3 linked regions of the Homo sapiens genome follow. The protein of the gene in region 3 purifies or fractionates together with the protein of the main gene of each other region. This does not show direct contact. Each region holds a gene or a part of one and is shown on either strand. Other genes may lie near its edges. The genes, in order: STRN, POP1 and EIF2S1.

What was found.
Region 1: the proteins of EIF2S1 (region 3) and STRN fractionate together in Homo sapiens (co-fractionation; one large-scale study listed by BioGRID). This does not show direct contact.
Region 2: the proteins of EIF2S1 (region 3) and POP1 fractionate together in Homo sapiens (co-fractionation; one large-scale study listed by BioGRID). This does not show direct contact.

The regions. Positions count from the first base shown.
Region 1 is NC_000002.12:36,956,413-36,960,065, reverse strand, and holds part of STRN (striatin), read left to right. Parts: intron 1-3,653. UniProt on the Homo sapiens protein: Calmodulin-binding scaffolding protein which is the center of the striatin-interacting phosphatase and kinase (STRIPAK) complexes.
Region 2 is NC_000008.11:98,123,729-98,127,381, forward strand, and holds part of POP1 (ribonucleases P/MRP protein subunit POP1), read left to right. Parts: intron 1-3,653. UniProt on the Homo sapiens protein: Component of ribonuclease P, a ribonucleoprotein complex that generates mature tRNA molecules by cleaving their 5'-ends. Also a component of the MRP ribonuclease complex, which cleaves pre-rRNA sequences.
Region 3 is NC_000014.9:67,373,759-67,377,411, forward strand, and holds part of EIF2S1 (eukaryotic translation initiation factor 2 subunit 1), read left to right. Parts: intron 1-709; coding exon 710-789; intron 790-2,680; coding exon 2,681-2,832; intron 2,833-3,653. UniProt on the Homo sapiens protein: Member of the eIF2 complex that functions in the early steps of protein synthesis by forming a ternary complex with GTP and initiator tRNA. This complex binds to a 40S ribosomal subunit, followed by mRNA binding to form a 43S pre-initiation complex (43S PIC).

The sequences.
Region 1 (3,653 bases), on a different chromosome or scaffold from region 3:
ATTTTTCATTCTACTCATATTCTTGATAATTTCATAATCTTTATATTTTAGAAAGGTTATAGAGGCTTTAATCTTTTAAAACGTATCCTATTATTTGTCTCTTCAGTTCAGTGTTTCTCAACCTTAGCTATAATCTTAGAATAATCAGAGGGAATGAATACTAATTCCCTGGACTCTACCCCAGATCAATTAAATCAGAATCTTAGGAATGAGGACCCCTAGCATTAGTATTTTTTGAGCTCCCCAGTATACAGCAAGGATTGAGAACCACTGCTTTAGTTGTTTTTTTCTGTTTTTACATTATCTATAAAAGTTTGGTGATTTCAACACTTTTATTAGTATTCCCTATATGGATGGCTTTTTATAGAATTTGGGATATAATTTCTTTTTCCATTGTTCTTTCTGATGATAGCATTTTATTTTTAGGCAGTAGAATATTATAATTTGAATCACCTCCTTCTGACTGAGATGTAATGACAGAGTAATCTTTGAGCTGGAATGAACTTTGGAAATAATCAGCTCAGTTAGGTAAAGTGAGGTTCAGAGGGAGGCTGAATGACCAAGAATGAAATAGGTTTTGTACAAGCTGTCACTTACATCTCCAGATATCTTTACAGTTTTATTTTTTCATATTTTTTGTCTAGGGGCCAGGCTAATCATCTGTATCATTCCAATTTGAGTATATGTACTGCTACAGCCAGCACTCTTTACAGTTTTCTTTAAAGCCCTTTCAGATACACTGTACCATTTAAACTGTACAACCTTCTGAGGTAAGCAGAGCCACACTGATGCTTATTTATTTATTTTTTTTAGATAACAGGCATAAAGATTTTACTGTGTTTTACTGCTTTCTAGCTTATTTTATTGGTTGCATTTAAGATTTTCTCTGTCTTTGGTGTTATGTAGTTTCATTATGATGTGTCACAGTATAGATTTCTTTTTCTTTTTTTGAGATGGAGTCTAGCTGTGTCGCCCAGGCTGGAGTGCAGTGGCACAATCTCGGCTCACTGCAACCTCCGCCTCCTGGGTTCAAGCAATTCTCCTGCCTCAGCCTCCCGAGTAGCTGGGACTACAGACGCCCGCCACCATGCCCTGCTAATTTTTTGTATTTTTGGTAGAGATGGGGTTTCACTGTGTCAGCTAGGATGGTCTCTATCTGACCTCGTGATCCGCCCGCCTCAGCCTCCCAAGTGTTGGGATTAGAGGCGTGAGCTACCACACCCAGCCTATATTTCTTTTTATTTTGTTTGGGACTTCATTAGACTCCTTGAATTTGTGGATTGGCTTCTCATTAGTTCTGCAGATTTCTCAGTTGCTATCTTGTTAGGTTTGTCCTCGATTGCATTTTCCTTTCTTCTCCTTTTGGGTTTTTGATTACATGATCTTAGGGCTTCTCCATTATCTGCTCTGTATTTTCCATCTTTTTATCTCTCCATGCTTTATTCTCGATAATTTATTCTGACTTATTTTCCAGTCTGTGAATGACATATCTTCCACTCCATTAATTTTCTCTTCAGTTGAGTCTGATTTGTTAAAACCATCCACTGAATTTTTAGTTTTGGTTATTGTTGAAGTTCATTTTGGTTTCTTTTCAAATCTGCTCGGTCATTTCTTAAAAAAATATTGTTCTGTTCTCTGCAGGTATTTTCAGTGTCATCTTTAATTCTTTAAACATAGTAAGTAGTTATTTTTTAGTTAGTGTCTTTGCGTTTCCTTTATCTGAGGTCTTAGAGGTGCCTTTGTGTGGTCTGTTGTCTCTGCTGGTTCTTGTTCATGACGACGTGTTCCCTTGTATCCTTAGTTTACCTTTGTGTGCCGCCTGCTGTCCTTGAAAAACTGTGAGACTAGACAGGCACGGTGGCTCATGCTTGTAATACCAGCACTTTGGGAGGCTGAGGCGGGCAGATCACCTGAGGTCCGGAGTTCAAGACCAGCTTGGCCAACATGGTGAAACCCCGTCTCTACTAAAAATATAAAAATTAGCCAGGTGTGTTGGCACATGCTTGTAATCCCAGTTTCTCAGGAGGCTGAGGCAGGAGAATCACTTGAACCCAGGAGGCGGAGCTTGCAGTGAGCCAAGATCGCGCCACTGTACTCCAGCCTGGGCAACAGAGTGAGACTGTCTCAAAAAAAAAAAAAAAAAAAAAATTAGCTGGGCGTCGTGATGGGCGCCTGTAATCCCAGCTACTCGGGGGGCTGAGGCAGGAGAATCACCTGAACCTGGGAGGCAGAGGTTGCAGTGAGCCGAGATTGCACCACTGCAATCCAGCCTGGGCAACAGAGACTCCACCTCAAAAAAAAAAAAAAAAAAAAAAAAAAAAGACAAAAAGAAGAACTATGAGACTAATCTGAGCTCTCAAATAAAGGTATCTTCTTCAGAAAGGTTTTTTTTTGTTTGTTTTTTGTTTTTTACATTTCCTTCTGGTAGATGTCTAGAGTTATTACCAGTCTGGGGCCACTTTATTTTTTATTTTTATTTTTTGAGATGGTCTTACTGTCACCCAGGCTGGAGTGCAGTGGTGTGATCTTGGCTTACTGCAACCTCTGCCTTCCAGGTTCCAGCGATTCTTGTGCCTCAGCCTCCGGAGTGGCTGGGACTATAGGTGTGCACCACCACGCCTGGCTAATTTTTGTATTTTTAGTAGAGACGAGGTTTTGCCATGTTGGCCAGGCTTGTCTTGAACCCCTGGCCTCAAGTGATCTGCCCGCCTCCGCCTCCCAAAGTGCTGGAATTACAGACGTGAGCCACTGCCAGGCCTGGAATCACTTTAAAGTAAATGCATTACTTAAGATGTTTGGGCCACCCAGCTGATGTGAATTTTGGTTGTGAATACATTTGAGGGCCAATATACTTCTGTTTTGTCTTTGCTTTGAAGACATAAGCCCTTTAGGGATCTAGCTAAATGTGAGGTATATCACCTATTAGACTGTCCACTCTGGAGGGGTAGGGTGTTTGATTTTTGCTCCTTGAGTCCTGCAAGGCTGTTTGTTGTGATTGGTCAATATCCTAAGGGCAAAAATGGCTTTTTGTTCCTTTACCTCACTGGGTTCCCATTTTCCCTTTTATTTTGGCCAGATAATTCCTTCCTATTTTTGTGTTGCTTTTAAGAAAATTGTGAAAATATTTTGTCCAGAATTTTTGGCTGCGTTCAGTAGAAGAATTGTTGTGGGGCACCATAACTGGAAACTGAATTCTCTTATTTTACTTTCAAAATCTGACAAATAAGAATGGCCCTACTAATTTTTGGGGGAGAAATAATGTTGACAGACAGCACTTCTTTATCAAGAGATGTGCCTATTTAGTCCTGAACTTTATTTCAAATCTACTTTTCTTTGAATGGTAAAGGGAGACCTACAGTTTTTCTCCAAAATCTTGATAACTGAAGCAGAGTTTAAAACAAACAAAACCCTTTGCTATGCAGTCAATGAAAGGTGTTTGAAAGTTCAGATAATCTGGATAGAGTCCCCTTTGCCCACCTGCTATCTCCTTGATGTCAGCTATACTTTTGATTTGCTAATGTGTGTAGCATCCAGGTTTCAATTCTGGGCCATTAGAAATAAAATTGTCCTTGGATCTTTGGCGTTTCTTGCCTCGGTGGCCAATCTGACAAAACAATCTGTTGACCATCATAATTGGACAGTTGAAAGTATGG
Region 2 (3,653 bases), on a different chromosome or scaffold from region 3:
ATCATGACACTGCACTCCAGCCTGAAGACAGAGTGAGACTGTGTCTCAAAAAAAAAAAAAAAGATACACATGATGCTCTCTCCACTCCCATTTTGATCAAATTGCTTTTGTCAGCTCTTTTGATAGTCATTATCTAAATAGTAAATGAGCTGAATTAAAAACAGATACAGTAGACCCTTATTATTTTTGAGTTTCCTATTTGCAAGTTTGCCTACTTGCCAAAGCTTATTTGTAACCCCAATATTAATACCCATGAAGCTTTGGCTATCATTTGTGGACATACATAGAGCAGGAAAAATTTGAGTTTCCCTGTGTTTACGTTCCCAGCCGAGCTTCCCAGCTGTCATGCAGAAATGGGCAGAGGATGGAGGCAGTATAAGGGCAGGGCAGTACAGTGCAGGAAGCTCCAGCTCTCCTGGGGTTTGAATCTCAGCCCTGGGGCAGCCTCATGCAGGTCACTTAGCATTTCTAGACTTCATTTTCTCTTTTGTAAAATAAAGGAAATAAACTCTACCAGGAGGAGTTGTTTTTTGGATTTAAGATTATAATATGGCCAGGGGCGGTGGCTCACACCTGTAATCCCAGCACTTTCAGAGGCTGAGGCGGGCGGATCACCTGAAGTCAGGAGTTCGAGACCAGAGTGGCCAACATGGCGAAACTCCGTCTCTACTAGAAATACAAAAATTAGCCAGACATGGTGGTGTGTGCCTGTAGTCCCTGCCACTTGGGAGGCTGAGGCAGGAGAATTGCTTGAACCGGGAGGTGGAGGTTGCAGTGAGCCAAGATCGTGCCACTGCACTCCAGCCTGGGTGACAGTGAGACTGTCCCAAAAAAAAGGAAAAAAAAAAAGATTATAATCTATGTGAGATGAAGATATGTATGTATCCCCACTAGGAGGAATGGTTCAGTATTCACTAATTCATTGACGTAATTCAGGGACGTATGAAACATGACTACTATAAATAATGAAAATTGGCTATGCATATTTTAGAGCTGGTATATTTTATTTCTACCTTAACATCAATGATTATTATACTTCTGTGTTTCCTAAGAGAAGTGCAGTATAGTCATCATATCTGTATTTCACTGGTGTGCTGATTTTAGAACCTTATGAAGTGATAGGAAGATCACAGTTGTTCATTAGGGCAGCGGTAGAAAGTGCTAATTTGGGAAGACAGCAAAAGCAAGTGTCCAAGGACTTGTTTGGAGTGCTTTAAAAAACTGCATTGGGTCTGATTAAGTAAATTTTAGAGTCAAGTTCATAAGGTCTAGATTCAGATCCTACAGTTGATGCCTACCATGCCATATGATAAGGCTTTCACATTTTTTTTATCTCATTTAAACCTCACAATGTTCTAAGATTTATAGTGGCTTAATAATTAACACCACAATTGAAATAAGCAGAAACACTATAAAATTCTCTACTGATCTCTCCCTTAATTTACAGACAGTTTTTTTTTTTTTTTTTTTTTTTTGAGGCAGAGTCTTGCTCTGTCACCCAGGCTGGAGTGCAATGGTGCGATCTCGGCTCACTGCAACCTCCACCTCCTGGGTTCAAGCGATTCTCCTGCCTCAGCCTCCTGAGTAGCTGAGACTACAGGCGTGTGCTGCCACTCTTGGCTAATTTTTGTATTTTTAGTAGAGACAGGGTTTCACCATATTGGCCATGCTGGTGTCAAACTCCTAACCTCAAGTGATCCACCTGCTTCGGCCTCCCAAAGTGCTGGGATTACAGGCGTGAGCCACTGTACCCGGCCACAGACAGATATTTAATGTTGTCTTATAGTCATAATGCCCAGACACTTGTATGGAAATGTTGCCTTTTTTTTGGAGATGGAGTCTTGCTCTGTTGCCTGGGCTGGAGTGCAGTGGTGCGATCTTGGCCCACTGCAACCTCTGCCTCCCGGGTTCAAGCAATTATCCTGCCTCAGCCTCCCGAGTAGCTGGGACTACAGTCACATGCTGCCACACCCAGCTAATTTTTTGTATTTAGTAGAGACGGGGTTTTACCATGTTGCCCAGGCTAGTCTTGAACTCCTGAGCTCAGGCAATCCACCCACCTTGGCCTCCCAAAGTGCTGGGATTACAGACATGAGCTACTGTGCCTGGCTGGAAATTTTGCTTTTTAAAGTTTTAAGACAGGATCCCACTCTGTCACCCATGCTGAAGGGTAATGGCACAATCGTGGCTCACTTCAACCTTGACCTCCTGGGCTCAGGTGATCCTCCCACCTCAGCTTCCCGAGTAACTGGGGCTACAAGCATGTGCCATTATGCCCAGCAAATTTTTTTTTTTTTTTTTGGTAGAGACAGGGTTTTGCCACGTTGACCAGTTAGTCTCAAACTCCTGGACTCAAGTGATCTGCCCACCTTGGCCTCTCAAAGTTCTGGGATTAGAGGTGTGAGCCACCACATCCATCCTGGAACTTTGCTTTTAGTTATTTATTTAGTATAGTGGCTCTCAATTTGAGTGTGGCAGAGAGTTAGGATAAAAGACTGTACACAATCATGTGGATTATAGTATTAAGGGAGTGTCGTTTGGGCTGCTGTAACAAAATACAGGTTGAGCATTCCTAATCCAAAAATCTGAAGTCTAAAATGCTCCAAAATCCAAAACTTTTTGAGCGCCGACATGACATGACAGGTGGAAAATTGCACATCCGACCTCATGTGATGGGTCACAGTCAGAATGAAGGCATATAACACACAGTTTATTCAGCATTCCCATGGGAAAAAAGATGTTCCCAGCCCCCTTCAGCTGTGATATAAATATTTCCAAGCACTCCCAGATTTCACCACGTAAGCACACCCACAAAGACAAATAAAATACATGTAATTTTTACTGTTAAATACTTACATGTGAGTAAGTGTAAGAAAGTGATTGCTTATCAGTAGCATATAGATTCAGAGTCAGGAAGGATGCTGATGCCAGCCAACCACAGATTGTCCACAGGGTGGCTGAGATAGTGGCACCTTTGCTTTCTGATGGTTCAAGTATACAATGTGCAAAAAGTTTCATGCACAAATTATTAAAAATATTGTATAAAATTACCTTCAGGCTGTGTATGATAAGGCGAAAGAAGTGTAATTGAATTTTGTCTTTAGACTTGTGTTCTATCCTCAAGATATCTCATTTTATATATATACGAATATTCCAAAATCCAAAAAAATTGGAATTTGATACACTTCTGGTCCCAGTTATTTCAGATGAGGGATACACAACCTGTATCTTACTGGGTAGCTTATAAATAACAAATGTATTTCTCACAGTTCTGAGGGCTGAAAAGTCCAAGATGAAGGAGCGGGCAGGTTTGGTGACTGGTGTGGGCCTGCCTTCTGGTTCATATACAGCACCTTTTCACTGGTTCTCACATGGTGGAAGGAGCGAGGGTCTCTGTGAGCACTCCTTTATAAGGATACTAATCTCATTCATGAAGGCTCTACCCTCATGACCTAATCGCCTCCTAAAGGCCCCACCTCCTAATACCATCACCTCGGGGGTTAGGATTTCAACACTGGAATTTTGGGGGACATAAGCATTCAGACCATAGCAGGGAGCTTAGATTTGAAATTCATGTTGCACCGTTTATAGGAGAAAATTTCACCTGTATCTGTTATATCCAAGGTCCTTTATATGTCATCCTGACATGATTA
Region 3 (3,653 bases):
GGGTTCAAGAAGATGTTTAAGCACCTAACATAGTTACTTGTATATGGTAGTCATACAGTAGATTAGATAGTTTTAATTTGTTCAGTGTGTGTGTGTGTGTGTGTGTGTGTGTGTGTCTTCTGTGACGATAGCCTCTTTCCTTAAACTAAATGAACATCTTAGTGAATTTTCCTATTCTGGAGAAGGAAAAGGAAGAAATAGGGGAAAGATAGGCATTTGACTACCTTTCATTTGGATAATTGAAAATTATTAGTTCTCTCCAGTAAGGTAATGGAATATATATAATTACCTGATAATAAAAATTTATTTCTGAAAACAATTCAGAATCTCTCATCTTGTACAGATTGAGTATCCCTTATCCCCAAATCCAAAATGCTCCAAAATCTGAAACTTTTGAGCACCAACATGACACTCAAAGGAAATGTTCATTGGAGCATTTCAGATTTTGGATTTTCAGATTCGGGATGCTCTAACTAGTAAATACATTGCAAATATTCCAAAATCTGAAATCCAAAACACTTTTGGTCCCAAGCATTTCTGATGAGGGATACTCAGCCTTGTAATACTTATGCAGTATTTTGTTGATAGGATTTTAGTAGGAAATAATTATAAGTATGCCAATCAAACACTTAATTTGGTCTTCAAAGCTGGTTACAATAGTACAGTGGCATCTGGACAGAGATGATTTTTTCACAATTTTTTTGTACAGGATATATTGATTTGTCAAAAAGAAGAGTTTCTCCAGAGGAAGCAATCAAATGTGAAGACAAATTCACAAAATCCAAAACTGTAAGTTGATCTTTGAGTCAAATTAGTCCACTATCTGTGTGTTTAATAAATAATTTGAAATCTTAATTTCATACTGCTACTACCTTAAAGTATTGCTTATGATCTAATATTCTCAAATTAGTACTAGAAGTGTTTTGAAGCCGTTTTAGGTTAAATTAACTGTGGGTGACTTCAACTGCTTTAACTTGTTTACAGTTGGAATGCCTCATAAAATACGGGGTTTTTTTGTTTGTTTAAATAGAAATGAGGTCTTTCTATTTTGTCCAGGTTGGTCTCAGACCCTGAGCTTCAAGTGATCCTTGAGCCTCAGCCCTCCAAAGTGCTGGGATTACAGAAGTGAGCCAATGCACTTGGCCAAAATACAGTTCTTGATTTTCAACCCTGTTCTGGGATGAGGGTAACGGAGACAACCAGCTGTTATATGTTAAGAATGAACAGGGGTTTATAAAATGTCTGTGAATCCAGGAAAGCAAGGCAGAGGCCTGTTACTAGTTTTGGTTTTTTTCCCCCTCCACTAGCGTGTTAGGATTATTTCTTTTTGCATTCTTATTTTTGCTATTACTTCCTGCTTGTCATCCACAGTAAGCAGCAGCAAAGCAAAGATAGCCATTTAATTTCTTCTGTCAGTATTTCTCTTTTCTCAGGTCCTGTTTAAGTTATCCTTCATCCTCTACATCCTCAGTTCTGTGTGTGTGTGTGTGTGTGTGTGTGTGTGTGTGTGTGTGTGTGTGTGTGTCACAAAGTCTTTCCCAGACTGGAGTGTAGTGGCGCAATCTCAACTTACTGCAACCACCTCCTCCTGGGCTCAAGCGATCCTCTCGCCTCTGCCTCCCGGAATGTTTGAGATTACAGGCGTAAGCCAGTGTGCCCAGCCTATCCTCAGTTCTTAGTGGTACTGTTTGTATTGCTTCTGTTTTCTTTGCCCTTCTCTGGTGTCTGTTCTTTTCTGCCATGAGTGTTTCTGTCCTCAAGATAAAATATCAAAAAAAAAAAAAAGTTTCAATGAAGAGATTTTAAAAAATCTTGCTTAATCCCAGTAAGAGAGAAAATAAAGGTCTAAAAGCCATCAGTTACCCAAATCATTTCCTTTGTTTTACTGATGTATTTACAGTTATGCAGTGTGGTTTACACATTTGAAAACACTGTCAGTAAAATATCTTCTTAATAAACTCTAGGACCTTACCACTTAGAATGTAGTCTCTAAACTAGCAGCATTGACATCACCTGTTTTTTTAGAAATACAGACTCTCAGGTCCTACTAACTTTTGAGAAGCACTTTTCTGGGAAAATTTCATATTTTTTTGTCTCCTTAGGATATTGTTAAAATGAGTGTGTTAATAGATCTTATTGAGATGTTAAAATGGAAGAGTTATTCAGTGTCAGTACCTTTTCTCACTCAATTTTTATGTGTAACTATGATGAAGACCTTAATACTTTTTGTCTACACCCTGTTAATTTTAGGAGGTAAGAAAAAGTTTGGCAGGTGGGTAAGATGACAGAAAAAAAATTTTTTTTATCGTGATTCTCTCCTCAGGGAGTAATAATAACAACTTGTATTTGTATAGCCGTTTTCCATTTATAGTGTGTGGTTTCTATATATTTGATCTATGCGAGCACTCTGTAGTAAGGAGAGATGCTAGTTTCTTCTTTTTCCAGAGGAGGAAACAAGTTCAGAGATACTGTGTTACTGTCAAGACTTGATCCAGGTCTTAGGACCCTAAATTGTATACTATCTCTACTTTTTATACCCACTTAAAGTGAGTATTTCCCTATGGAGATCTTTTATTGTTAAGGAATTATTGTAGCCAAATTATGTTATTTACTAAAATGTAAAAACATTTTTTATAAATCTCTTATCTTTGAATTGTTGAGCTTTTCATTTTATTTCTAGGTTTATAGCATTCTTCGTCATGTTGCTGAGGTGTTAGAATACACCAAGGATGAGCAGCTGGAAAGCCTATTCCAGAGGACTGCCTGGGTCTTTGATGACAAGTACAAGAGACCTGGATATGGTGCCTATGATGCATTTAAGCATGCAGTCTCGTAAGAATACCTTCTTGACTCTCCTTCTACCTTGATATCACAACTCTTGGCCTGATATTTAACAGCATAGCATCCATGTATAAAATACTTGCCAAATTTAGATTAAAATATTTTGTATTGGCCAGTAAATGGGCCAATCCTATATGGTCAAGTCTGTGTAGTTTTATGTATCATAGTTATGTAGATTCATAAACCATATGGTTTATCTCACACATTTTCCTTTCCTAGTTATTGTCCTAAGTGGCTATGGGACTAAAGAGCATGTCTCACCAAAAACTATAACCTCTTGTTTTCTCTACCTCTTTTGACTCTCCTTTGACTTTCAGCCCACACCACTTTAGCCAGTCTTCCATGTAGCCTTAGCCTGGGCCTTACTATCACCGGGATTTGCTCTGCCACTAAAATCTTTAATTCACACTTTCTGTTCTTTTGCCCCTGCCTCCTATTCATCTAGCTCCCAGTTGGTCCTATTATTTGTCATCTTAATTCTGTATGTTAGGATCTGATTCCAAACCTTTTTTCTCCCTGTCTTTTCGCCATTTCCTGCCTTTTCTCTCTTATCCAACATAGGCACACCATGATACATCATTTTAACGACTTTGTTGCCATTATTGTGAGCTTTTGCCTTGTTTTTCCTTCCATCCATCCAGCCTTGGATCAATGTTCCTGCCTTCTCTGTACTTGTAGACTGCTGGGTGCTACTAGGAAAAATCAGTCTTGCAGGTTGGTCCACTGCATATTCATGGTCTCCAGCCTCAGCTGTTCCACATTCTCTCTGCTCCTGGTCAGTTCTTCAGTAGTGGCTATTTTAGAGCTTTTCC